Homo sapiens: one gene and its partners. The protein of the gene in region 4 purifies or fractionates together with the protein of the main gene of each other region. This does not show direct contact. Each region holds a gene or a part of one and is shown on either strand. Other genes may lie near its edges.

Evidence for each region.
Region 1: the proteins of BRD8 (region 4) and IYD purify together in Homo sapiens (affinity purification with mass spectrometry, with the first as the bait; one large-scale study listed by BioGRID). This does not show direct contact.
Region 2: the proteins of BRD8 (region 4) and MAP7 purify together in Homo sapiens (affinity purification with mass spectrometry, with the first as the bait; one large-scale study listed by BioGRID). This does not show direct contact.
Region 3: the proteins of BRD8 (region 4) and RTL9 purify together in Homo sapiens (affinity purification with mass spectrometry, with the first as the bait; one large-scale study listed by BioGRID). This does not show direct contact.
Region 5: the proteins of BRD8 (region 4) and SDF4 purify together in Homo sapiens (affinity purification with mass spectrometry, with the first as the bait; one large-scale study listed by BioGRID). This does not show direct contact.
Region 6: the proteins of BRD8 (region 4) and E2F3 purify together in Homo sapiens (co-immunoprecipitation; one study listed by IntAct). This does not show direct contact.
Region 7: the proteins of BRD8 (region 4) and ACTL7A purify together in Homo sapiens (affinity purification with mass spectrometry, with the first as the bait; one large-scale study listed by BioGRID). This does not show direct contact.

Annotation. Positions count from the first base shown.
Region 1 is NC_000006.12:150,396,512-150,400,011, forward strand, and holds part of IYD (iodotyrosine deiodinase 1), read left to right. Parts: intron 1-1,543; coding exon 1,544-1,726; 3' UTR 1,727-3,500. UniProt on the Homo sapiens protein: Catalyzes the dehalogenation of halotyrosines such as 3-bromo-L-tyrosine, 3-chloro-L-tyrosine, 3-iodo-L-tyrosine and 3,5-diiodo-L-tyrosine.
Region 2 is NC_000006.12:136,344,423-136,347,922, forward strand, and holds part of MAP7 (ensconsin), read right to left. Parts: intron 1,658-3,500; coding exon 1,434-1,657; intron 1-1,433. UniProt on the Homo sapiens protein: Microtubule-stabilizing protein that may play an important role during reorganization of microtubules during polarization and differentiation of epithelial cells. Associates with microtubules in a dynamic manner.
Region 3 is NC_000023.11:110,357,393-110,361,647, reverse strand, and holds the start of RTL9 (retrotransposon Gag-like protein 9), read right to left. Parts: upstream 2,801-4,255; 5' UTR 2,732-2,800; intron 1-2,731.
Region 4 is NC_000005.10:138,144,131-138,147,630, reverse strand, and holds part of BRD8 (bromodomain-containing protein 8), read left to right. Parts: intron 1-1,752; coding exon 1,753-1,842; intron 1,843-2,385; coding exon 2,386-2,454; intron 2,455-3,500. UniProt on the Homo sapiens protein: May act as a coactivator during transcriptional activation by hormone-activated nuclear receptors (NR). Isoform 2 stimulates transcriptional activation by AR/DHTR, ESR1/NR3A1, RXRA/NR2B1 and THRB/ERBA2.
Region 5 is NC_000001.11:1,219,217-1,222,001, reverse strand, and holds part of SDF4 (45 kDa calcium-binding protein isoform 2 precursor), read left to right. Parts: intron 1-1,271; coding exon of another isoform or gene 1,272-1,303; exon of another isoform or gene 1,304-2,785. UniProt on the Homo sapiens protein: May regulate calcium-dependent activities in the endoplasmic reticulum lumen or post-ER compartment. Isoform 5 may be involved in the exocytosis of zymogens by pancreatic acini.
Region 6 is NC_000006.12:20,491,547-20,494,214, reverse strand, and holds the end of E2F3 (transcription factor E2F3), read right to left. Parts: 3' UTR 501-2,668; downstream 1-500.
Region 7 is NC_000009.12:108,861,091-108,864,256, reverse strand, and holds ACTL7A (actin-like protein 7A), read right to left. Parts: upstream 1,992-3,166; 5' UTR 1,935-1,991; coding exon 627-1,934; 3' UTR 501-626; downstream 1-500. UniProt on the Homo sapiens protein: Essential for normal spermatogenesis and male fertility. Required for normal sperm head morphology, acroplaxome formation, acrosome attachment, and acrosome granule stability.

The DNA of each region.
Region 1 (3,500 bases), on a different chromosome or scaffold from region 4:
AAGCTATGTCTTGAAAAGGACCAAGATATAAAATGACACTAAATTAAGGTGTAAATATTTTCTCAAAAAAGTTTAAGACTTGGCCAGGTGCGGTGGCTCACGCCTCTAATCCCAGCACTTTGGGAGGCCAAGGCGGGCGGATCACGAGGTCAGGAGATCGAGACCATCCTGGCTAACATGGTGAAACCCGGCCTTTACTAAAAATACAAAAAATGAGCCAGGCGTGGTGGCGGGCGCCTGTAGTCCCAGCTACTCGGGAGGCTGAGGCAGGAGAATGGCGTGAACCTGGGAGGCGGAGCTTGCAGTGAGCGGAGATCCCGCCACTGCACTCCAGCCTGGGCGACAGAGCGAGACTCCGTCTCAAAAAAAAAAAAAAAAAATTAAGATTTATCCATTGCAAGTTCAAATACTATGTGAAGATATGATCAAGGAGAAGAAACGCCATGATAAAGTAGAGCTAATGACAGAAAGAAGAAATCAGTTAGGTTTTTTGATGCATGTATTCTTGAGAACAGTCTCTCAGGTATTGTGAAATCTTCGTTAATCAAGGTATAGTATATGATGATGTTGTATAAGAGACCTTCAGCAAGAAACTATATTGAGTCACTCTAGATTCATATATGTGCATGTGTGCATGTATCTATATATGGGTTCATATATATATGGGTTCATAAATATATATGGGTTCAAATGCCAATATTAGAGTTATTGATAACAAATCATAGATTCCAGGCAGATCACTGGAGTTCAGGAAAGAATATTTAGCAGGAAAATTGGCCAGGTATGGTGGCTCACACTTGTAATCCCAGCACTTTGGGAGGCTGAGACGGGCAGATCACTTAAGCTCAGGAGTTTGAGACAAACCTGGGCAATATGGCAAAACCCCATCTCTATAAATAAATACAAAATATAGCCAGGCATGGTGGTGCATGCCTATAGTCTCAGCTACTTAGCAGACTGAGGTGGGAGGATGGCTTGAGCCCAGGAGGCAGAGGTTACAGTGAGCCGAGATCATGCCACTGCACTCCAGCCTGGGTGATAGAGCCATACTTTGTCTCAAAAAAAAAACAAAAAACAAAACCGAATATGTATATTTAGTAGGAAAATTATGTCGCATTTGGGCTAGGACACTGCTTTGGTGGACTCTCTTATCATTTGGTTCTTGTACCAGGACACAGACCAACCCCTTAGCTAAAAGGAACTCCCTGTTGTTTTTGCCTTTCCTCTACTGTAGTTGGATTCCTACAGTATTTTTCTGTAAAATAACCATTCCTATTTCTTAAGCATCAATGAAAAATAATAGTATTTTTCTTCTTCCAAAAGCTTGCCACTGCTTGGTTAAAAGAAGGGAGGGGGTGGGGAGATTGATGGGGGCAGGGAGGTTCACGATGCCATTACTTGAGCTGGCAGCCTCTTTGCTGCCCAACTTCAGGGAAATGATAGGAAGAGCAGGTATAATCAGGACAAGAAGGTCCCCAGGTTAGAGGGAGAGCAGTCATTCTGCCTGCTGACTTTAAAATGCTTTCTTGTCCTCTTATTTTAGAATGCAGGTCTGGTGACTGTCACTACCACTCCTCTCAACTGTGGCCCTCGACTGAGGGTGCTCCTGGGCCGCCCCGCACATGAAAAGCTGCTGATGCTGCTCCCCGTGGGGTACCCCAGCAAGGAGGCCACGGTGCCTGACCTCAAGCGCAAACCTCTGGACCAGATCATGGTGACAGTGTAGGCAGGGCCCCCCAAGGGAGTGGCAGGGAGATGGCGCCCCTGCTTTTCCCTGAGCCTCTCGCCTGCTCCTCTTGGGTCTCTTGGCTGCTCTTTCTCCAGGTGTCAGGTCCCCTCATTGCTCTTCTCAGGTGGCCACACTATGTCAAGAAGCCTCTCCACACTCTGTGGCACTTCCAGTCCCATAAATCCTGTTTCTTATCCACTTTGGAAATGCATGAACACTTTACAAAGAACATGCCCGGGTTTTTACATTTTAAAAGTTATTCTAGACAATCACTATTGGCTTTTTTCTTTTATTTTTAAAAAACTCACATAGAGGAGACAATCAGAAATTTACCATAGTCCCAAGAATTCAGCTACATGATGACTCGAATTTAAATTTAGATTAATCAAATGGTCTCCTGTTCTCTGATTTCTGGTGGCTTTTAGACACTAATTTTTGAGAACTACTTTTTTTTTTTTACCAAACTTCAGGGACACTCTGCTAGTTTTGAATAAGTAACCATCAAAGTTACTAAAACATGGCCAGGCGCAGTGGCTCATGCCTGTAATCCCAGCACTTTGGGAGGCCGAGGTGGGCAGATTGCCTGAGCTCAAGAGTTCGAGACCAGCCTGGCCAACATGGTGAAACCCCATCTCTACTAAAAATACAAAAAATTAGCTGGGCATGCACTTGTAATTCCAGCTACTCAGGAGGCTGAGGCAAGAGAACTGCTTGAATCCGGGAGGTAGAGATTGCAGTGAGTCAAGATGCTGAGATGCCACCACTGCACTCCAGCCTGGGCAACAGAGCGAGAACCTGTCTCAAAAAAAACAAAAACAAAGTTACTAAAATGTCACCTTCACAGAACAGGACAGGGTACCCTTGGGTCGCACGGGCCTGGCTGGCATGTAAACGGTCAGTTGCACTGCCTAGTGGTTTGGTAGATCTGACTTGTAAGCAGTTCATAGAAGCTGCTCAATACTCAAGAATCTTGCAAGACAGTTATTAAACATTCATAGCTTGAAATTGCCCATGGTGGGAGAGTTTACATCACAACCACTACAAATCAGCACTTGCTTTCTTCTTCTTAAAGAGAGCTGCTTACCATACATAGCACCCACAGTGTCTCCCTTCTCTTCTACCCCAACCCCTGAAACACACTGACCCCTATTCTCCAGATGACAGCACAGCTGTTTGGGACTGATAGGGTCACAGTTGCCAGGTTGGGAATGCTAGATGTAGTCTTCACCCATCACCTTCTGTCGTCCTCCCAGGGGTGTCATATTTACAGAGGCAAACTCTTACAGCTTGGATGATTTCTCATCAAGCAACTCTACTCACCTCTTTTTCCCCTTTCCCTGTGCGTTTCTTCTTCTTGTCCTCATTTTCCTTGAGAAAACTCTCTCTATAAAAAATTTCCATAGAGTATGTGGCTGATAAACAACAGAAATTTGTTTCTCACAGTTCTGGAGGCTGGAAGTCCAAGGTCGGGGTGCCCTCATGGTCAGGTGCTGGTGAGGACCCTGATCTGGGTTGCAGACTGCTGACTTCTTATTGTGTCCTCGTGGTAGAAAGAGGGTTAGAGCCTCTGGCATGCCTTTTATAAGGGTACTAATCCCATCATGAGGCCCCGTCCTTATGACCTCATCACCTCCCAAAGGACCCCCTCCTAATACCATCACATTGGGGGTTAGGGTTTCAACATATGAATTGCGGGGGACACAAACATTCCGTCCATGGCACCTACTTCATAGGGTTTGGCATGCTGCTCGGTACATGGTTAACATTCATA
Region 2 (3,500 bases), on a different chromosome or scaffold from region 4:
GAAACATATGTTCTTTTCTTTACATCAGCTTAGGCCACAGCCTTCATTTTTCCAAGTGGCATACACAGATTGTACTTTTCTCGGTTAGGGGTTTAAACATTCATTTCTCTTGTATCCTCAGTATCTGATGCTTAGGGTTCTAAACATATGTTGGAGGTTAAATAAATGTTGATAAATCATCTGGAAGTTCTTTCCCTTCCTGTAAATCTGTAACATGAGTAGGAAGCTGCACTGGGCATGTTTCCATCAACATACCATTAGTCGGATTGTTCCCAAAGGCTTAAGAATCAGAAAGTCAGACAGGGGAGGGCCCTTACAACCTCCCTTCAAATCCTAGAAAAGTGGAGTTCACTAAAGTGAGGTTCCACTTCCAAGGTCAGTACACTAGAGGAGAAAAGAAGAGTAGCTTCATTTGGATGGGTGGCTCACATTGGTTATCACACCGAATTAAAAGTTGATTTATTACAGATTCACTGATTGAATCTAGAAGGCAAAACAATTTGCCCACAAATAATTCTGTATTGTCTCCATTTAGTTATCCTGAATTTGGCCAGTTCTTTTTGTAGAAATATAAAGAGATGCTGGTCAATACATGACAGTCATCTTCAGGGAAGAGAAGTCAACAAAATTGAAACAGGTTTGAAGAGACAGGGAGCACAGATTATCTTGCTAATTCCTGAGACTGATGGGATTGCGTTGCTGAGCTGCTATGACCACTGAGTTAGTAATATTTGATATTATGTCTTCTTTCTTTGGGTCCTGATTGTTCTTTTTGCACAAAGACTTCAGGTCAAGTGTGGGTCAAAGAGACATTGTATAAGAAAGTCACAGGCAGTTTCAACAGCAACAAAATCATTTAACAAGTTAAGATCTTTAGACTCAGTGTGAGTACTGGTTTCATCACCTAAATCGTAACTATCCATCATGTCACATTTTGAAAGGACAATAATTTATTACCCAGGTTGCCAAACCCAAATAAGAGAAAAATGGTGGGAGAACATGATGGCAGTCTTCAAATACATGAAGACCTCAGAAAGATGGAAAAAACTCAGATCTTTCTCTAGTGGGCAGCACTAGGCCGGATGGTCCAAAATTATGGGGAGACAGCCCTGTCTTTCTACAAAGCATATTCTGAGCATGCATGATGTCGGGTAATGGGTGCTGCTCTGTGCAGAGAGGCTGACAGACACCCACTGGGTGCTGCGGACTGGACTTCTGCACTGACTGAGAGAATAGGAGAGGCCTTAGAAGTTGTCCAATCCAACTCAAAATTCAATTTCTATGAGCCAGGCACAATCTCTTCCACTGTGGCTTACTTGGTCCTTTGAAGAACAAAGTGTTACCACAATCATACTGTAGAAGGCAGCAGTTCGTGTCCTCCTGGGTGTCAGATATTTCTGATGACTACAGAAGGGAGTTGGAGGCAAGCTTACCTGCAGTCTGCTGTGTCTGAACACCATCTACCTGAGGCAGGGGCCCAAGTGTCCCTTCATCATCAAAGGCCAAAATTGGATTCAAAGGAATTTCTGGGCTCTCACTGTTGGTGACATCTAATCTGGATGGTTTAGATCCAATGGGTAAGTTTATAATTTCTTCAAAATTTTCATTCTGAACAGATACACCATTTTCATTTGGTTGTTTTTCCAAATCGGGAGTGCTAAGGAATTTGAAAAATAAAAATAGAAATAAGTTAGTCTTAAAACTGGAAAACACATTATTAGGAAAACCAAAATGTTTTATAATGAATAATTTTATAAATCTACAATTAAAAAAATCAGACTGGTGAGTCACATCATTACTAACAAAAATAATAAATTGTGGTGTATTTGTACCTTAAATTCTTATTTTAAAAAATCTAGGTCAGGCACAGTGGCTCATGCCTGTAATCCTAGCGCTTTGGGAGGCCGAGATGGGAGGACTGCTCAAGGCCAGGAGTTCAAGACTAGCCTGGTAAACATAGCAAGACCCCCGTCTCTACAAAAGAAAAAAATTAGCTGTGTGTGGTGGCACGCACCAGTAGTCCAAGCTACTCTGGCAGTCGAGGTGGGAGGATCACTTGAGCTCAGGAGTTTGAGGCTTCAGTGAGCTATGATGGCACCACTGCATTCCAGCCTGGGCTATGGAGTAAGACCCTGTCTCTAAACAACAACAAAAAAATTTTAAATCTGTCATTTTGTTATGAAAATTATCAAATAGAACAATTTATCAATTACAACAGATCATCATTAATAGAAATAAATCATCATCAGCAGCAGTTCTACACATTTAATGATTTCTGCTGCAGGCATTTTTATATTCATCTGATAGAGTACCACTTATGAGGACCTTTGCCTCAAAGATGAGGGGATTATAATTTGGAGGGGGGAGTAAATGATTTGCACAAAGTCACACAACTACTGAGAGATAGTTGAGGCTAAATGCACGATCTCTTAATCTCTGGTCCTGTGTTTTTCTCATTAAGCCATTTCGCACACTTTCTAGATATTCCAGCCTCCTAAAGCCCTTGCATAATTTCATATGTAAATTTTTGAAGACCGATCTTCTTATCTTTGCCCCTTAAATCTGCCTCTGACCTCATCTTGATCCTTATGAATTCATGCTTAATATCTTGGATTTATTTTTGAGATATACTTAATTGGCCCCAAATACTTAATCTTCTATGGTTTGTCTTAGATTACCACTCTCTGTTATAGGCTTATTATTATGCTTTACAATGTAGCCAAATAATGCCTATGCATCAAATGAGTGCTAAACTAATTTTACCATTCATTTTATTTCATTGCAGCATATACATATGTGTGCAAGCTTCAAAACTTGTTCAATGCTCAACAAATTAACCTTAGTCTCAGTAATACCAACTGCTTGAACATTGTTAGCAAGTCAGTTTGTCTTCTCAAATTGTAAAACAATGCTAATGTAAATCCAACCTTTCTATTGCTTTTTAACACTTTGCTTTTTTTTTGCCTGATTGAATAAATAGTTTACTTTCTTTTTCCTTTTTTGAGAAGGGTCTCACTCTGTTGCCCAGGCTGGAGTGCAGTGGTACAGTCTCAGCTCACTCCAACTTCTGCCTCCTGGGTTAAAGTGGTTCCTGAGTCTCAGCCTCCCAAATAGCTGGGACTACAGGGGCAAGCCACCATGCCTAGCTAATTTTTGTATTTTTAGTAGAGAAAGGGTTTCTTCGTGTTGGCCAGGATGGTCTCGAACTCCTGGCCTCGAGTGATCTGCCCCCATCGGCCTCCCAAAGTGCTGGGATTACAGCCATGAGCCACCACGCCCAGTCAAAATAGTTTACTTTCTCTACTGAGTGAGAAGTATTGACTTTGGAACACATACTAAAGCATTTCTGATTTGAATATTTGTGTATTTTTAAAATTATTAAACCTTCCTTTTTTACGGAAAAAATGAAGATGCCTGTCCTAAGTGTCTCACAAGGCATTGCAGAATACACTGAAAACATTATTTGTAAAATAATCTGAAATATTATACAGTGTGATGAT
Region 3 (4,255 bases), on a different chromosome or scaffold from region 4:
CAGAGAAGATTTTACCAAGTGGGATATTTGATCCATCACCTGAAGGACAGGAGTATGTCAATATCTGGGTTGCATACAGCATTATGGGCCATTATAAGGGGTTTTGTTGTTACTGAGTGTCAGATGGGAAGCCATTGGAGGAGTTTTGAGCAGAGGAGTGACATGATCTGACATTCACATAATAAAATTATCCTGGTTCCAAAAAACAGTGAGAGAATAATAGGCTTGAGTGATGGTGGCAAGAACAGAAGCAAGGAGAACAGTTGAGAGGCTAGTGCAATATAATCCAGGAAGCAGATCATTGTGACATAAACCAGGATAGTAGCAATGAAAAAGTGGTCAGATTCTAGATATATTCTGAAGGTAGAACCAATAAGATTTGCTGATCAAATAAATGTAGGATATGAAAGAGGGAAAAATCAAGATTGATTCCTAGGTCTTCCGCCTGAGCAACCGGAAGAATGAAATTGGTATTTAGGGAGACGGGGAAGACTGTGAGGAGCAGGTTTTGTGAGTGCAGCAGGTTTTGTTGGGGGTTGTGGGCAGGGGCAGTTTTGAACATGGTAAGTTGGAGATACCTATTAGGCATGCAAGTTGATATGTCCAGCAGGCAATTGGGCATAAAAGTATGGAGATACAAATTTGTGACTCATCAGCAAATAGATAGTATATTAAGCCACGAAGATCGGAGCATCACTAAGAAGATAAAGGACAGAAGATATCTTAGGCTTCAAGCCTTCCTCTACCTTTCAACTCCAGAAGTCAGTCCGTGACAAAATCCTATCAATTCTTCCTGTATAATGTCTCTCAATTCACCATTTTCCTTCCATTCCCACTGCTACCATTGTAGTCCAGGATCTCACCTTGTCTTACTTGGCTTTTACAATAGCCTCCTAACTGGTTTCCTTGCCTCCAAATGTCAACTTGAAACTCATCATCTCATTTGTCCTTCCCCTCCAAAAAAATCTTTCTACTTCTCCTGGGCTCTCTATCTTAAAGAATGGCATCACTATTCATAAGCATTTGCTTAAACTTGAAAATTTGAAATCCTCCTTGTCACCTCCCTTTCTTCTACTCTCCATTATGCAATTCTATTACCAAACCCTGACATTTTTACCTCCAAAATATAACTCAATTCTGTCCACCATTCTCTGTCTCTATTACTATCAATCTAGTTCAAGATAACATCACCTCCCACCTGGACAATGGTAATAGCCTCTTGACTACTCTTCTTCCCTCTAGTTAATCTCCCATATGAAAACCAGTGGAATCTTTCTAAAACAGTGCTATGCATATTTTGCCTACCTATTCTGTAGGTCCACAGAATAAAATTCAAAAGCCCTTCATCATTTGCCCATAACTTTTCTTTCCAATGGTATCTACTATGGCTTCTCTGGAAATTCCCCTCATTTCATCCCTGTGGGCTTGTCAGTGGTCTTTAGACCCACCATGACCACAGTGTGCCCCCAATACCTAGTGCAGACCTTCCCAAACATATTACAAGTGTCTGAGGCTATGAGATTTCTTCTCTGTCCTCAACTGAGCCCAGAGACAGTGCTGTTGAAACTCCTAGAATGCTTGCCTCTAGATGTCAAACTGCTTCCTCCATTCAGCCTAGTGTGCTTTACAAATACTATGCTTTTCTCTGCATGCCATGACACAATAAAGGTTGTGAAGGACTGCTTTAATGCACACCATTCCCAGAGTTTGGAAAGTGCTGCTCCATTCTCTTCTCTAAGTTCTAAGTACCCTTCTATGCCAAGTTCAAGTCTCACCTTTCTGATAAAGCAGTCTTTGATGCTACATATCCAACCTCAAAATTCTTGTATGATGTGACCAGACCACTCATTTGGCACTTAGTATATGTGCTGCTATTTAACTTTTTATGGTGAGACCTTATCTCTCTGTGTTGTCTGTTGCTTAAGAGCAACAATTTTTATACCGACTTTTGCACCCAGGGCCTTACCATACAGTAAGACACTCAGTATATTTTTACAATATTAATGAATAAATTAATTAATGAATAGATAGTTAAATTCCATCAGATGGTGCAATGGACAAGAACATTAGATTCAGAATCAGAGAATCTGGATTCTAGTGCACTTTGCCACTAGATGGTTGTGTGAGACTTCAGGAAAGTTGCTTGCCTTAGTTGCCTCATTCACAAAATAGGAACAATACTTCCCATTGTGACTTCCCAAGTTGAGATGGGATAATTTATGGAAAAAATATTTGGCAGATGAAAAGAGCATGTCGTTCATGAGTAATGCCAAAAGAGGCAGTGTGGAAGATAAAGAATGAGCTCAAAGAAGCTGCAGAAAACATTAGAGGGTTCATGGGTGAAAAAAAAGCCAAAGGGGTAAGGGAAATTTGCTAGCAAAGTAGACTTGCCCAGGAGTGATTGAGAAAGGATGATAAACACAGAAGAAAGAAAAATCAAGTTTCTGTTGCGAAGCAGTATAACACAGCCACTAGATCCAGACTGCCTAGGTTCAAAGCCTGGCTCTGGCACTTAACCAGCTATGTGACCTTGAACAAGTTATTTAACATCTCTGAACTTCAGTTTACTCATATGTATTATGGGGGCAATAATAATGCCTATTTCCAGGGAAGTGTTATAAGATGTAAAGGAGTTAATACTTATAAAGTACTTAGAGCAGTGCAGACCAGTGCCTAGCATATAGAGCGTTATAGAAGAACGTGTTAGATAAAATAATAATCTTCTCCTTACCAGGCAATACTCCAGTCCTCATGGCTGGCACTTTCTCCTGGGACCTGGAGCAGGGCTCACGAAAGTTCTGACTTGCTCTCCAGTGGGCACGTCTCCTTTCCACATTCCAGAGCCCAGTCCTCTGAGCTTAGCCTATCTCACTGCTCAAAGGACACTATGTTTCCCAGCCTACAAAGTTTCTTTTCAATTCTTTAGCCTTTTTCAAAACCCAATAGAGTTCCTTGTGAGAACAGATAGGAGTGAATTCCATAAGCTCCCAGAAGCAAATACAGACAGTATAATCTAATCTTTTAGAGCAATGGCTTTGTAATCAAGCAAAAGAGAGTTTGAATCAGGGCTCTGTAAATGACCAACTGAGTGACCTTGGACAAATCCAAGGTCTGAGCCTCAGCTTGCTTGTCTTCAAAATGAGGCCTCACAGGTGGTTGTCAGGATCAAATGAGAAAATGGACATGATGCATTCAGTATAGGGCCTGGCATGTGGTAAGCACTCAGAAAGTGTTAGCTCTTATCATTAATAATTCCTAGGATTATGGGTCTCGATTTTCCCAACTCTAGAATGTAATTTAATAGCACTATAGCTCTTATCCACTATTCCTCTGTCATCTCAATTTGACCCTTCCAAACTAAAAAGGTGCAAAAAAATATTCTTGGTGTGATAAGTTGACAACACTCTGCATTTTACACTCCCTTTGAGGTTTATGCCCAGTTTAAAAGAATTACAGAGAAAGAACCCGCAACTCTAAGTATGCTTCAGATTTCCATATGTCTGTAAATGCCTCAAAGACAGCAGTGGTCCTCTTAGCCTAGGGTGAACATCAAAATCACCTATTTTTATTTTTAATTTCATTAAATATAATTCTTCTGATAAAATGGCAAAGAATTTTTTTTCAAAATCCTTGCTTTTACCCTAGAAATGATACTCCTCATGAAACAAATGTCCAATGGGGAGACAGAGGGCCAGGCAAGTATATTTTGCAAAAGTTATCCAAGTCAGTCTCGTAAACACCCCTGATGTGAGAGAGGGACTGGAACATGCATTTGGAGGATGAGGCCAGGGTCTTGCCTTGAGAAAAAATCCAAGAAGGGCAAGTATAACCACTCTGCTTCCCACACAATGTGGGTATGTAGAAACATGCCCTGCACCCACAGGGAAGAGCATAGTATTTTCTCCTGCATGCATTAATCACAGAGGATTTCCCTCCTATAGTTATACAAGCATCATCCTTGACACATCAGTTGGAGAACTGTACTCAGTGAGAATACAAGATTCATCCAGCTTTGAAAATGTAACTATATCTAACAACTGGATTAAATATATTTCATGCCCAAAGATCTAATACTATTTAAAGCCTACAGCAAGGAAGAATGATTACCAAATAATTTAATTATTTTTGGTTTACACATCTGTCATCAAAGTTAATCGTTTGCTGGCAGAAACTGGCCATTTGGTCTTGACCATGATCACTAATGAGTGTGCTTGCATTTCATATCAAGGAAACAGTCTCTCAAATGGTTCTAATC
Region 4 (3,500 bases):
GAAAAACAAAGTTGTTTTTATCTGTGACTCCTGGCCTCAAGTGATTCTCCTGCCTCAGCCTTTCAAAGTGCTGAGATTATAGGCATGAGCCACTACGTCCAGCAAAGTTATTTTTGTTATGGTAATAAATAAATTGTTCTTTTTCCAGCCTGTGTCAGATCCATCTGTTGAGAGAATATAGTATGAACTGTTTTTTTTTTCTTCAGTATATCCCAGATCCACCCAGTTGTCTGTGGAAAGGTAAAACTAATAATTATTCTAGTGTTTTTTTGTTTAAGATATACAGCTGAACCATGCATATATTTATATATGAATATATATATATATATATTTTTTGAAGAGCAGATTTCTTTTTTTTCTCATAGAGACAGGGTCTTGCTTTGTTGCCCAAGCTGGGTCTTGAACTCCTGGCTTCAAGCAATCCCACCTCAGCCTCCCAAAGTACTGGGATTATAAGCCTGAGCCACTGTGCCCAGCCTAGATTTCAATTTTTGGTACACAAATAGGATACAGTTTAAAATGTAGATTGGTGAGGAATGCCTTCATTTGCTTTTCTTTAACTCCTTAAGTATGAGCAATAGAGTGCAGAGATGACATACTGTGACTGTACAAACAGCAGGAAATCTGCAATCTGAGACTTTTTTTTTTTTTTTTTTTTTTTGAGACGGAGTTTCGCTCGGTCGCCCAGGCTGCAGTGCAGTGGCGTGATCTCGGCTCACTGCAAGCTCTGCCTCCTAGGTTCACACCATTCTCCTGCCTCAGCCTCCCAAGTAGCTGGGACTACAGGCACCCGCCACCACGCCCAGCTAATTTTTTGTGTATTTTTAGTAGAAACGGGGTTTCACCGTGTTAGCCAGGATGGTCTCAATCTCCTGACCTTGTGATCCGCCTGCCTCGGCCTCCCAAAGTGCTGGGATTACAGGCGTGAGCCACCACACCGGGCCCAATCTGAGACATCTTATCTCATGACAGTTCATAGTCTTGGATGGTAAATTCCACATTCTTACCTTACAATTTAGATTAAATATGAAATCTTTATTAGAAAGCAGTAGATATCCAGCCTGGGCAACGTAGTGGGACCTTGTCTCTACAACAAATACAGAAATTAGCTGCAGGGCGTGGTGGCATGTGCCTGGAGTCCCAGCTACTTGGGAGGCTGAGGCAGGAGGATCGCTTGAGCCCAGCAGGTTGAGGCTGCAGTAAGCCACGATCACACTACTGCACTCCAGCCTGGGCAACAGAGCAAGACCCTGTCTCAAAAAAAAAAAAAATTGGCTGGGCATGGTGGTTCATGCCTGTAATCCCAGCACTTTGGGAGGCTGAGGCGGGTGGATCACTTAAGGCCAGGAGTTTGAGACCAGCCTGGCCAACATGGCAAAACCCCGTCTCTATGGAAAATACAAAAATTAGTTGGGTGTGGTGGTATGCAACTTTAGTCCCAGCTACTTGGGAGGCTGAGGCAGGAGAATCGCTGGAACCCGGGAGGCAGAGGTTGCAGTGAGCTGAGATCATGCCACTGCACTCCAGCCTGGGCAACAGAGCAAGACTCTGTCTCAGAAAAATAAAATTAAAAAATTAAAAGAGAAAACAATAGATATTAATAACTAAGTCTGCTTGGCCAGATAAGGGGAGATAAAAAGCTTCAGATATTAATTAGGAGCATGTCTTAAGAAAACCTCATTACCCACCTGGGGGAGATAGAATATTATTTGTGAAGTTACTGTCTCTTTTCTTCATGTTTTATCCTCATAGGACTGATCTAAGCCAGGATGACCCTGTTCAGGATCATTTGCTATTTAAGAAGACTCTCCTGCCAGTCTGGAAGATGATTGCCAGTCACAGGTAGGTCTCCAAAGTGGTAATAGGATTATGTTCAGAGCTGAAGCAGTAATACATATTGGGGTTTAAGCATAAAAGGAGATATGTTCATCCCTCAAATGAGCCATAGTTGAAAGGTAGATTCTGTATCTAAGCCCGATTTATCCCAAAGTACCCACAGCTGCTTTCACAAGTCTGTACAAGAAATAGTTGCTGTGCCATTTGAGTTGCCTCTAGAAATTGGTTCCTACTACATGATAAAATTTATATTTAAAATGTATATTCTTCTTTTCAATCTGGTGGATTCTCTTTTTTCACAGAGACAGGGCCTTGGGAACTTTGAACAAATTTCTGAGCCCTAAATCAGTATATTGTAATAATAGTGAAATATTTTATAGTTTTGTGTTTTTTTTAACTCTCTGGCAAGAGGGAACAAATAGATTTTTTCCTAATGGTGCTGACAGTCTGCATTCCCCTAAAGGAAGTCTACTAAGAACTGAGCTACTCTTCTCCTTCAGAGTGCCTTGCCAGGGTTTCTTTATCCTCTCTGGGTTTGTCCCTTAACAGGTTCAGCAGTCCATTTCTGAAGCCTGTGTCAGAAAGGCAGGCCCCAGGGTACAAGGATGTGGTGAAAAGGTCAGTGAAAAAGGGGTCAAGAAAGGTTGGTTGCTTTTATATCTGCCTTTTCATTTTTTATTTCCCATCTGTTAGATTATTTTTATAACTTACAAACTCAAGATATGTTTCATAGCCAAACAAGTTTATAAAGTTATGATGAGCTCAGTATCATATCTTCATTTAAGAAGGAATGCAGGGAACAAAAGGATGATATAGGCTTTTTATTTTGTACTATTGACTTTTAAGTAATATGATCCATTCTATATATATATATATTTTTTTTTTTTTTTTTTTTTGACAGGGTCTCACTCTGTTGCCCAGGCTGGAGTGCAGTGGTACAGTCTTGGCTCACTGCAACATCCTCTTCCCAGGCTCAGCTATTCTCCAGCCTCAGCCTCCCAAGTAGCTAAGACTACAAGCATGAGCCATCACGTCCGGCTAATATTTGTATTTTTTGTAGAAACGGAGCTTTGCCATGTTGCCCAGGCTGGTCTTGAACTCCTGAGCTCAAGCAATCCACCTGCCTAGGCCTTCCAAAGGCTGGGATTATAGGTGTGAGCCTTGGTGTCCAGCCTGATCATTAATTATAATCTTAAATTAGCCTTTGGTTGTTTTTGACACTATTCTTTTGGAGCAAAACTTTAAAAGGAACCCTGTATTTATTCAGTTAGTTATAGGTATAGTAAGGCACAGATGTCGATCCAAATGGAAGTTATGAACATTGGTTGATTGTAGTATTGTGTCCGGAATTGGTTCCTTCCGGTGGGTTCTTGGTCTCGCTGACTTCAGGAATGAAGCTGCAGACTCTCGTGGTGTTACAGTTCTTAAAGATGGTGTGTCCAGAGTTTGTTCCTTCGGATGTTCAGATGTGTCCGGAGTTTCTTCCTCCCGGTGGGTTTGTGGTCTCGCTGAGTTCAGGAGTGAAGCTGCAGACCTTCACAGCGAGTGTTACAGCTCTTAAAGGTGGCGCCTCTGGAGTTGTTCGTTCCTCCCAGTGGGTTGGTGGTCTCGCTGGCTTCAGGAGTGAAGCTGCAGACCTTGGCGGTGAGTGTTACAGCTCTTAA
Region 5 (2,785 bases), on a different chromosome or scaffold from region 4:
ACACATTTCCTCACCAGAGTCTCAAGGCAAACCACCTCTTCTTTCTTTTTTCATGAGACGGTCTCACTCTGCTACCCAGCCTGCAGTGCAGTGGTGCAGTCTCGGCTCCCTGCAGCTGTACCTTCCAGGGCTCAGGCGATCCTCCTACCTCAGAAGCTGGGACCACAGGCACCATCACCGCGCCTGGCTAATTTTTGTATTTTTTGTACGGATAGATTCTGCCGTGTTGGCCGGGTTGGTCTCAAACTCTTGGACTTAAGTCATCCGCCTACTGCAGTCTCCCAAAGTGCTGGGATTATAGGCGTGAGCCACTGCGCCTAGTCTTAGCCTCTTTCTTTTTTTAATTTTTAATTTTTAATTGTTTAAGAGTGAGGGCCTCACTGTTGCCCAGGCTGGAGTGCAGTGGTGCGATCTCAGCTCACCTGTAGCCTCCACATCCTGGGCTCAATCTATCCTCCTTGGAGGACAGAAAAATAAAGGTGTAAGATACGTTCCTGCCAGGAACGGCCCATATCATGTGACCAGCCCCCATGGGGGCGGCCTCCTGAGTGACTGGGACCACCAGTGTGTGCCACCATGCCCAGCTGATTCAAAAACATATATTTTGTAGACACAAGGTCTCCCCATGTTGCCTAGGTAGGTCTCAAACTCTTGGATTTCAGAGGGTTCAAGTGACCCGCTCGGCCTCCCCCCGTCCTGGGGTTGCAGGCGCGAGTGACCCGCCTGCCTTGGCCTCTCCCCATCCTGGGGTTGCAGGCATGAGCCCCTGTGCCTGGCCTTGACCTTCTAGAATGACGCGGAGACTTTTGAGCCTGTTGGCTCTGCCTGCTCTTTTCCCAGTTCACGTACTCTTATCTGGAGTTTGGTCCTGTCCGTTCTAAATCCTGCAAATTGGACATTAAAAAAACTAAAAGTAAGAGGATCTCCCTGTGTTGCCCAGGCTGGTCTCAAAGTCCTGGGCTAAAGGGATCTGCCTGCCGCAGCCTCCCAGCATGCCGGGATTACAGGCACAAGCCCCAGTGCCCGGCCAAATTGGACGTTATTACTTCCTTTCCAAAAGAGTGGTTTACATTTTCCTCCCCACACACGGTTCGTGCCTCCACCCCGGTCCCGCGTTCCCTGCTGTCCTGACTGCGTCTTTAAGCTTCATCCCGTTGGTCCGGCCTGTTGGCGATGTGCTTGGGGCAGGAGGCCTTGCCCGTGCCCGCCCCCCAACTCTGATTGTGTCTGTCTTTCCTTGGTGCCACTTTATTTGGGTCTTTTCTGCCCAGGACATGGCCCACCTGGACCTAGAGCTCTGTGACATTTCTGTGAAGCCTCCGTCTACCTTTGGGACTCAGCAGAGGTGTGTTTAGAATTCACTCTGCGTTTTGGGGGTCCCCATGCATGCTGAGGTGCTGTTCCCTGCCCACCCGTGTCCGATCCGTCTTGGCCTCCCCGACCTCAGGGTGCCTAGGACCCCCCGACCTCTTTGGGTATTTGGTTTCTGGCTCAGGAAGAGCAGCTGCCGGGTCCTGGAGGAGGGGCCTGGGAAGCGCTGGCAGGCGTCACTCCTGCGACCTCCCACCCCTCCCTGCATGGCTCCTGCGAGGGTCACCGCGTGAGTCCGGGGGCTGCTGTCCTCGCGCCTCAGACCTGATTCTGGGGACCGCGGTGAAGGCGTGGCAGGCGGGCATCACTCCCTTCCCCCGCCTCCATCGCTGCCTCTCTCTGGGTCTGCGTCCTCTTCTCACAGGGACAGCAGTCGTTGACTCTCCCTGATCCAGGAGGGTCTCTCCAGATCCTTCCCTAACAGCAGAGGCCCGGCTCGTGGGGAGGGACTGGGACTCAAGGCTTCTTCACCAGCCTGAGGTTGGTGCTGGGGCTCGGCGGCGGCTGTGAGAATCCTGTGCTGGAGAAAGCGTCTCTCGGCCGGCCTGTCTGGGGCGTCTGTGCCTCTCCTGGATGGGTCTCAGTTTGGCCCCGTCCATCCATCCCAGGAGCTGCGGTGGAGCAGACAGGGAGGGGTGCCCCAGGAACCACAGCCCCGTCACTCCTGTCTTCCTTTAAGTGAACCGGTCGTGTAGATGGAGGTTGTTCAGAAAGGGATAAGATGGGACGGCAGCTGGGCCTCATCCCGCAGTGAGCGCGACGCAGAGGCTGCCGGGCTTGTGGCAGGGGCTTCGGCCAGGGCAGAGTCGGGCCTCACGTGCAGGGGGCTGAGTGTGGGCCTCAACACTGGACTTGGCCACTGACTGCAGTGAGCCCCAAGATGGGGCAGGAGGTGGTGTTTCTGTCCTGGAGACCCAGGGTGGCTTGGGTCCTTGGGATGTGTGGGGACCTCGGGGTGAGGGCCCGTTGGGGCCGGGTGGGCACGGCAGGAGAGCGGGGGCCACACACCCAGAGGCAGTGCCGTGTCCCGGCTGGGAGGGTTCCTGGGAAGCTCTGCTCAGCCCCAGTCTCAGTCATTTCTAGAAACTGTGTTTTCCTCCCTGTGACGTCACACGTGAAGGAAACGGAAAAGGGCAGTGAGTCCTTCGCCCCGCGGCGCCGTGCGCACGTCAGCCTTCAGGGTGATTCCGCTCCTCCAGAGGGGCAGGCGCGGGTGTGGGGGGTGGGGCCCAGGCCCATCCTGAGGGGTCCCAGGCATGAGGGGCTCTGAGCTGTGTCCTGGGGTGGTCTGGGCCATGGGGAGGTTCTGGATCATGTCTTGAGAGGTCTGGGCTGTGTGGGGGGTCCAGGCCATGTCCTGGGGGTCTGGGCTGTGTCTGTGGGGAGTCAGGGCCATCCATGTATTGGGGGTCTG
Region 6 (2,668 bases), on a different chromosome or scaffold from region 4:
AAATATTTGCTGAGTGTTCTGAGTCCCAAATACCGTCTAAGGCAAACGATGTTTTAAGCTTTTGTTTAGCCTTTCTCCTTAACTTGTTTAAGAATGTTTTAAAAAATTCAATTAATAGGCTGGGCGCGGTGGCTCATGCCTGTAATCCCAGCACTTTGGGAGGCCGAGGCAGGCGGATCACTTGAGGTCAGGAGTTCGAGACCAGCCTGGCCAACATGGTGAAACTCCGTCTCTACTCAAAATACAAAAATTAGCCAGTCGTGGTGGCGGGTGTCTGTAGTCCCAGCTACTCAGGAGGCTGAGGCAGGTGAATCACTTGATCCCGGGAGGTGGAGGTTGCAGTGAACCAAGATTGTGCCACTGCACTCCAGCCTGGGTGAGAGTGATTGACTCTGCCTCAAAAAACAAAACAAAAAAAAAAAAAAGAAAAAGAAAATGAAAAAAATTCAATTAATAGAGGAGCACAAGATAATATTAAAGAAAACCCATCCACAAGCCTGAACTCTTAAAAAAAATCATTTTATTGATCCTTTACCATACAAAATTTATTCAAATTACACCCATTTGAAGTGGTAAGATCACAGCTAGAGAACAGGTCACCCTGTAACAAATCTATTTACAAAATCCATCATAAAAGCTTTTTTTTGTTTTTTTTTACATTATATTACATATTTTCTTTTTTAAACTAGCATACAACACAAAGCTAAACTGATTAGTAGTTTGCCTACTCCCAATTTTGGGAGAAATACTTCCTTTTTACAAAATCACGTACCCCGTAGGAAAAGAAATTCCCACACCCTGACAATTGCCACCCGACTTACTCTGCAAGCCATCTTCCTTCATATCCCTCCTTCTCATACACACGAGTTGTCATGCACACACTGAATTCTTATTTTCTTTTTCCTGAAAGCTTAAGCTTTAAATACTGCAATTTTATTTACAGATCTACACGTACAACAAAAATGAAAACAAGAGCCACAACAAAGAACAGAAAAACAAAAACAAAATAACACTCTTAAAAAATTACAAAGCAGCTAGAAAGTATTCTGGCAGTGTTTACAAATTAATTGCTATTTTTGTACAAAATTGCTAAATAATGAAAATGTGAGTAGACTACATATCAACTTAAATAAAACGATTGCTATGCACAACTCTGTACATATAAACACACTCCTAACACTGTTTGACAGCTCATGTGTTGCCCTTTATACATTTTATTTTCTAAGGCTCACGCAGTCATAATTTGCACACTTGTAACTTTTAGCCATTTCGTGTGTGAGCTTTAATAGCAGCAACTCAATGGTACCAGGAAACCTGCATACTTAGTACTTAAAGTAACGCAAATACTGTAGTACTAACCCACTTTGTGTGCCGGATACTAAGTCAAAAAGAAAATTACTTAATGCAAACAAAATACAGTATGGACATCTAATTAATGTACACCAGTTAAACCCAGTAACTGGAAAAAAATCTTATGCATGAAGGAACTTTTAAGACTTATTAGTATTCCTTTCATTTTAAAAACAATAAATACGGCATTACATTATGAAAAAATTCAACAAAACACACAACAATCTAGCCAGGTGAGCTCAGTCTTTAGACTTTGGAAAAAATCAGCTTTGTGCAGCTGGCAAAGAGAATTACACAAAGCTGGAAGCAGAGGCAGCTAACCAGATGAGATAAATATGGGAAATGGGGAAAAGCTTGGCATAAATGGTTTCCCATACAGGAAAAAACCCCACAGTGCATTTCCAGTAGGCACTTAACACAAAGCTCCCTCTCCCTCCCCCACCCCAATGCTTCATCTAGGACCACACCGACATTTTGTACCAAGTCCAGTGTGTGTGAGGGGAGGAGGCCAGGGATGGAGGCTGAAGAAGAAAAAAAGGAAGATAGTCTGCACCTTTGTTTTTCTTCCCAAACATACACCCACGCATACCCACACAAAGAGTTTAAAGTGCTGGTGTCATCTGTCTTGACCCCACCACCACTTTGCATATTGTGGAAATCTACCTGGAGTAAACTGGCTGGGGCTCTTGTGGTTTTTTGTGTGTTTTTTTTTTTTCCTAAGGGATATTTTCAATTCAATTAAACATATGAGTTGAGTGCCTACTATGTGCCTACCATTGGGTCAGGCACATAGCATTTCAATTTAACTGTTCGTTTCGAGGTTTGTTCTTTATCTGACTCCCTCATTCCCGCAGTCCTTAGCATCCAAGGAATGGACCGGAGATACTACGCCATATTCCCAGTGGGAGATGGCCGCTGCCACCTGCCCGAGGGAAAGCCATTCTTGGACATAACTGGTAGGATTTGCAGCTGACACAAAGCCTCCAACTTGGGACACCATTCCTGAAGAGTAAAGCGGGAGACACCCTGGCATTGTTTTGCTTCATTTTTTACGTCCCCGACTTCCCTTGGTCCAACTTATTCCTTCATAGAGGAAGGGGAACGGGGTCTGGCCAGAACTATTCCAGCCCCCGACACAGGGCTGCTCCCTGTTCCTGCCAGCTTAAGGAAATGCCACTCACACAATGGGGATGTCTTTCTCCCTAGAGGTCTCTCCATCTGACCCCATCCTGAGAAGTGGTCTCCCTGAGTGCGGTGTAAGAGAGCCCTTTCCCCTGTCACAGGGGCCCGGGAAGCCCAAGGATGGAGGGACCCATGC
Region 7 (3,166 bases), on a different chromosome or scaffold from region 4:
CAGCAGCCAGTCGCTGTGATGGCTTAGTAAGAACTGGTACTGAGACATAAATGACTGTTGGAACTAAAAGAAACTCCTGTTAAAGCAGGGCTCAGACAGCTTTGCCAGCTCTTTCCAGTCCCTCAGGGTTGTTGATGAAGTATGAAATGGACACTGATGCTTTGTGGGAGTTTGCACTGTTACAGCATACTTCCTATTGGCATTTATGGAAAGGGAACTGCTTATATGCCCCAACAGCATTTACCCTCTAATCTTCATTGCACTCCCCCTTCCAAGCAGAGTTTAACCGTAAAGTAGTTCCTAAAGCGGGGAATGCACAAAATAAGGGGCAGCATAATTTTAGAACAAGTGAATGTTTAAGCAATCCACATACAATGCATGCCCTTTTTTGTTCATCCTCCCCCTACTCCTGCTTTTGTTTTGGGAAATGTATATTTTAAGGCAGACGCTGCACGTGTGAAGTTGTTTCTTATGAAGTCAGGAAGTAGAGAAACACACTGTGGAGGGGCATATGAGGGGTGTTTAATGCTACAGGAATAAGCGCCGGCTCCACCCCCTGTGTGTAGGAGTGCGCTCACCCTGTCGAGGGTAGGCACTGCCAGTGCAGTGTCCATCCTCGTCGCTGTTCAGAAGCACCTTCTGTAGAGGAAGAAAGGCCCGTGTTCCTCGTACTCAAAGCGGTGGACCCACAATGGTTGGAAACCCTGAAGTGAGGCCAGGATGGAGCCACCGGTCCACACGGCACTGTCTCTTTCAGGCAGCACGTTTACCTGCGGGGTGTCATTGGGACACATGCTGCTTAGCTCCTTCTGCAGACGGTTAGGGAAGCCACTGAGCATCGTGCTGCCCCCGCAGAGCAGGATGTTCCCCATGAGGTCCCGTTTGAGGGCGATGTCACACTTGTTAAGGCAGGACACGGTTTGGGTGTGGAGGCCCAGCTGCATGGACTTGATGAGAGATGGCTTGAAGAACATCTCCGAGCAGAGGAACCGTTCCTGGCACAGCTGAATCTCCTTCCCATCCGGCAGCACGTAGCGGATCGTATGCTCACTGAGAGGGACTTTCTTCTCCTCAATGGGATCCAGGGCCACAAAGCAGCATTTCTTCTTGATGTCCTCCACGATGCCCATCTGGTCCTGGGTGAATTCGTTCCCCGCACTGTTCAGCAGGCCCAGCAGGTAGGCTGTCAGGTCAGAGCCCGCGTAGTCCAGCCTTCCGGTGATGCTGGGCAAAGGATAACCCTCGTAGATGGGGACCACGTAGGACACGCCATGGCCCACCTCCACCACCAGGCCGGAGGTCCTTCCATAGGAGTACATGGACAGGCGCGACTGGTAGGCGATGTGCATTGCAGGGGTGTTGAAGGCTTCAAACAGCATTTCAGCATATTTCTCTCTGTTGGTGTGTGGGCTCAGTGGCGGGTCTGAAACCAAGACCGCATGCTCCTCCGGGGCGATCTTCATCTCTTGTCGGAAGAGATATTCCCAGATATCCTGCACTGTATCCCAGTCCACGATGATGCCATGTCGCAGAGGGTTAACCAGCTTGAGATGAACGTTTGTGTTGTTGAGTTCCTGCCCCACGAATGTCTCCTTGCGATTATCCCCAGTCTTGGCGGTCTCCATGTAGGGCTTGCCCACCGTTGTTGAGATCTTGTGGGTGGGTCTTGGCAGGCCGGCAAAGCCACATTTACAGTAGCCAGTGCCCAGGTCCACGACCACTGCTTTGGTCACCTCCTGCTTGGGCCTCTCCTTGGCTGCCTTTGATTCAGTAGGTTCTTGTGGCTCTGAACTCGTATGGCGGACCCACACGGCCCGCTTCGCCGGGCCATCCCTTAAAGAGGCAGTCTGGAGGGCCTGTGTCTGCAGGGGGGCCTGGTTGCCCACCTTCTTGGTGGGCCCATCCCCCATGATTGCTGCTGGTGGAGCCCACATGTTGTCAAGAGCCGCACCACTCTTAGAAAGTTCTCAATCCCACTGGATTCAAGGCCTGAAAGGCCTACATCAGAGGATACCCTGAGAATTTTCCCAACAGTGACATCACTAATTATGATGTAATCTGGTGACCTGGGCTTTCTAGATATTGCAAACCCTTATCCTGTGTTAGGGTACATTTGGGATATTGTTTTTGAAATGGCTCCCCTTTTCCTAAATTTCGTAACAAGACTGATTTATTCAATTAATTAATATTTCTTGAATGTCTGCTATATACAAGGCAGCTGGGAATTCGCTGGTGAAAAAAACAGACAAAATCCCTTATTCTAGTCGGTGGCGGGTGGGGGTGACAGACAATAACCAAAATGAGCGTTAAGAGCAAAAGCAGGGTGGCAGTGCTAGTGTGGCCTGGGCAGGGCTTCCTGAGAGGGTGACATTTGAATGAAGACCTGCAGGAGGTGAGGGAGAGAGCCATGTGTATGTCAGGGGAGCAGCAGGTGCAGAGGACTGGAGGCAGATGTGTGACTGAAGAGTTAGATCAGGGGTCAGCAGGCTGCAGTCCAATCCGGTCCCCGGCTTGTTGGATAGGAATACAGCCGTGCTCATTCATGTACGTATTGTCCGTGACTGCCATTGCAGTACAACAGTAGAGCTGAGTCACAGCATTGAAGACTGCATTGCCCAAAAAGCTGAAAGAAAGTAAATACTGACTGACCCTTAAAAAGTTTGCCGACCTCTCGAGTTAAAGGAGGAGCAGGAAGAAAAGTGTGGCTGGCATAGAAGGAGTAAGGAAAAGTAGATGAGATGGGGTGGGGGAAGGCAAGCAGCTCATGGTAGGCCTCATAGGCCAATGCAAGGATCGTGGGTAAGGTCAGAAAGCACTAGAGGATTTGGCACAGAGCACTGACACCATCTGATTTAGATGTTAGTGGGAATCCTTTGCTGCTATGGTGACTAAGGGCACTAAGGGTGACCCTTAGAACAACCTTAAGGGGAATTATTTTTGGATATACATGTGTACACTTACTGTGCCTTCATCAGGGTCATTGGCTAGACAGTGAAATTAGACTCTACAAAATCCCACTGACAACACTGAGGCTTTTAGGTGCATAGCTCACCCAAGGATATCCAACCAGGAGTAGCCAAGCTCTCCTGACTGTGGCTTCCTCCCCAGGATGTGCTGGGACACAGCTTGATGGGACCTAGCGTGCAACTCTTAGGCTGTTTGGCCA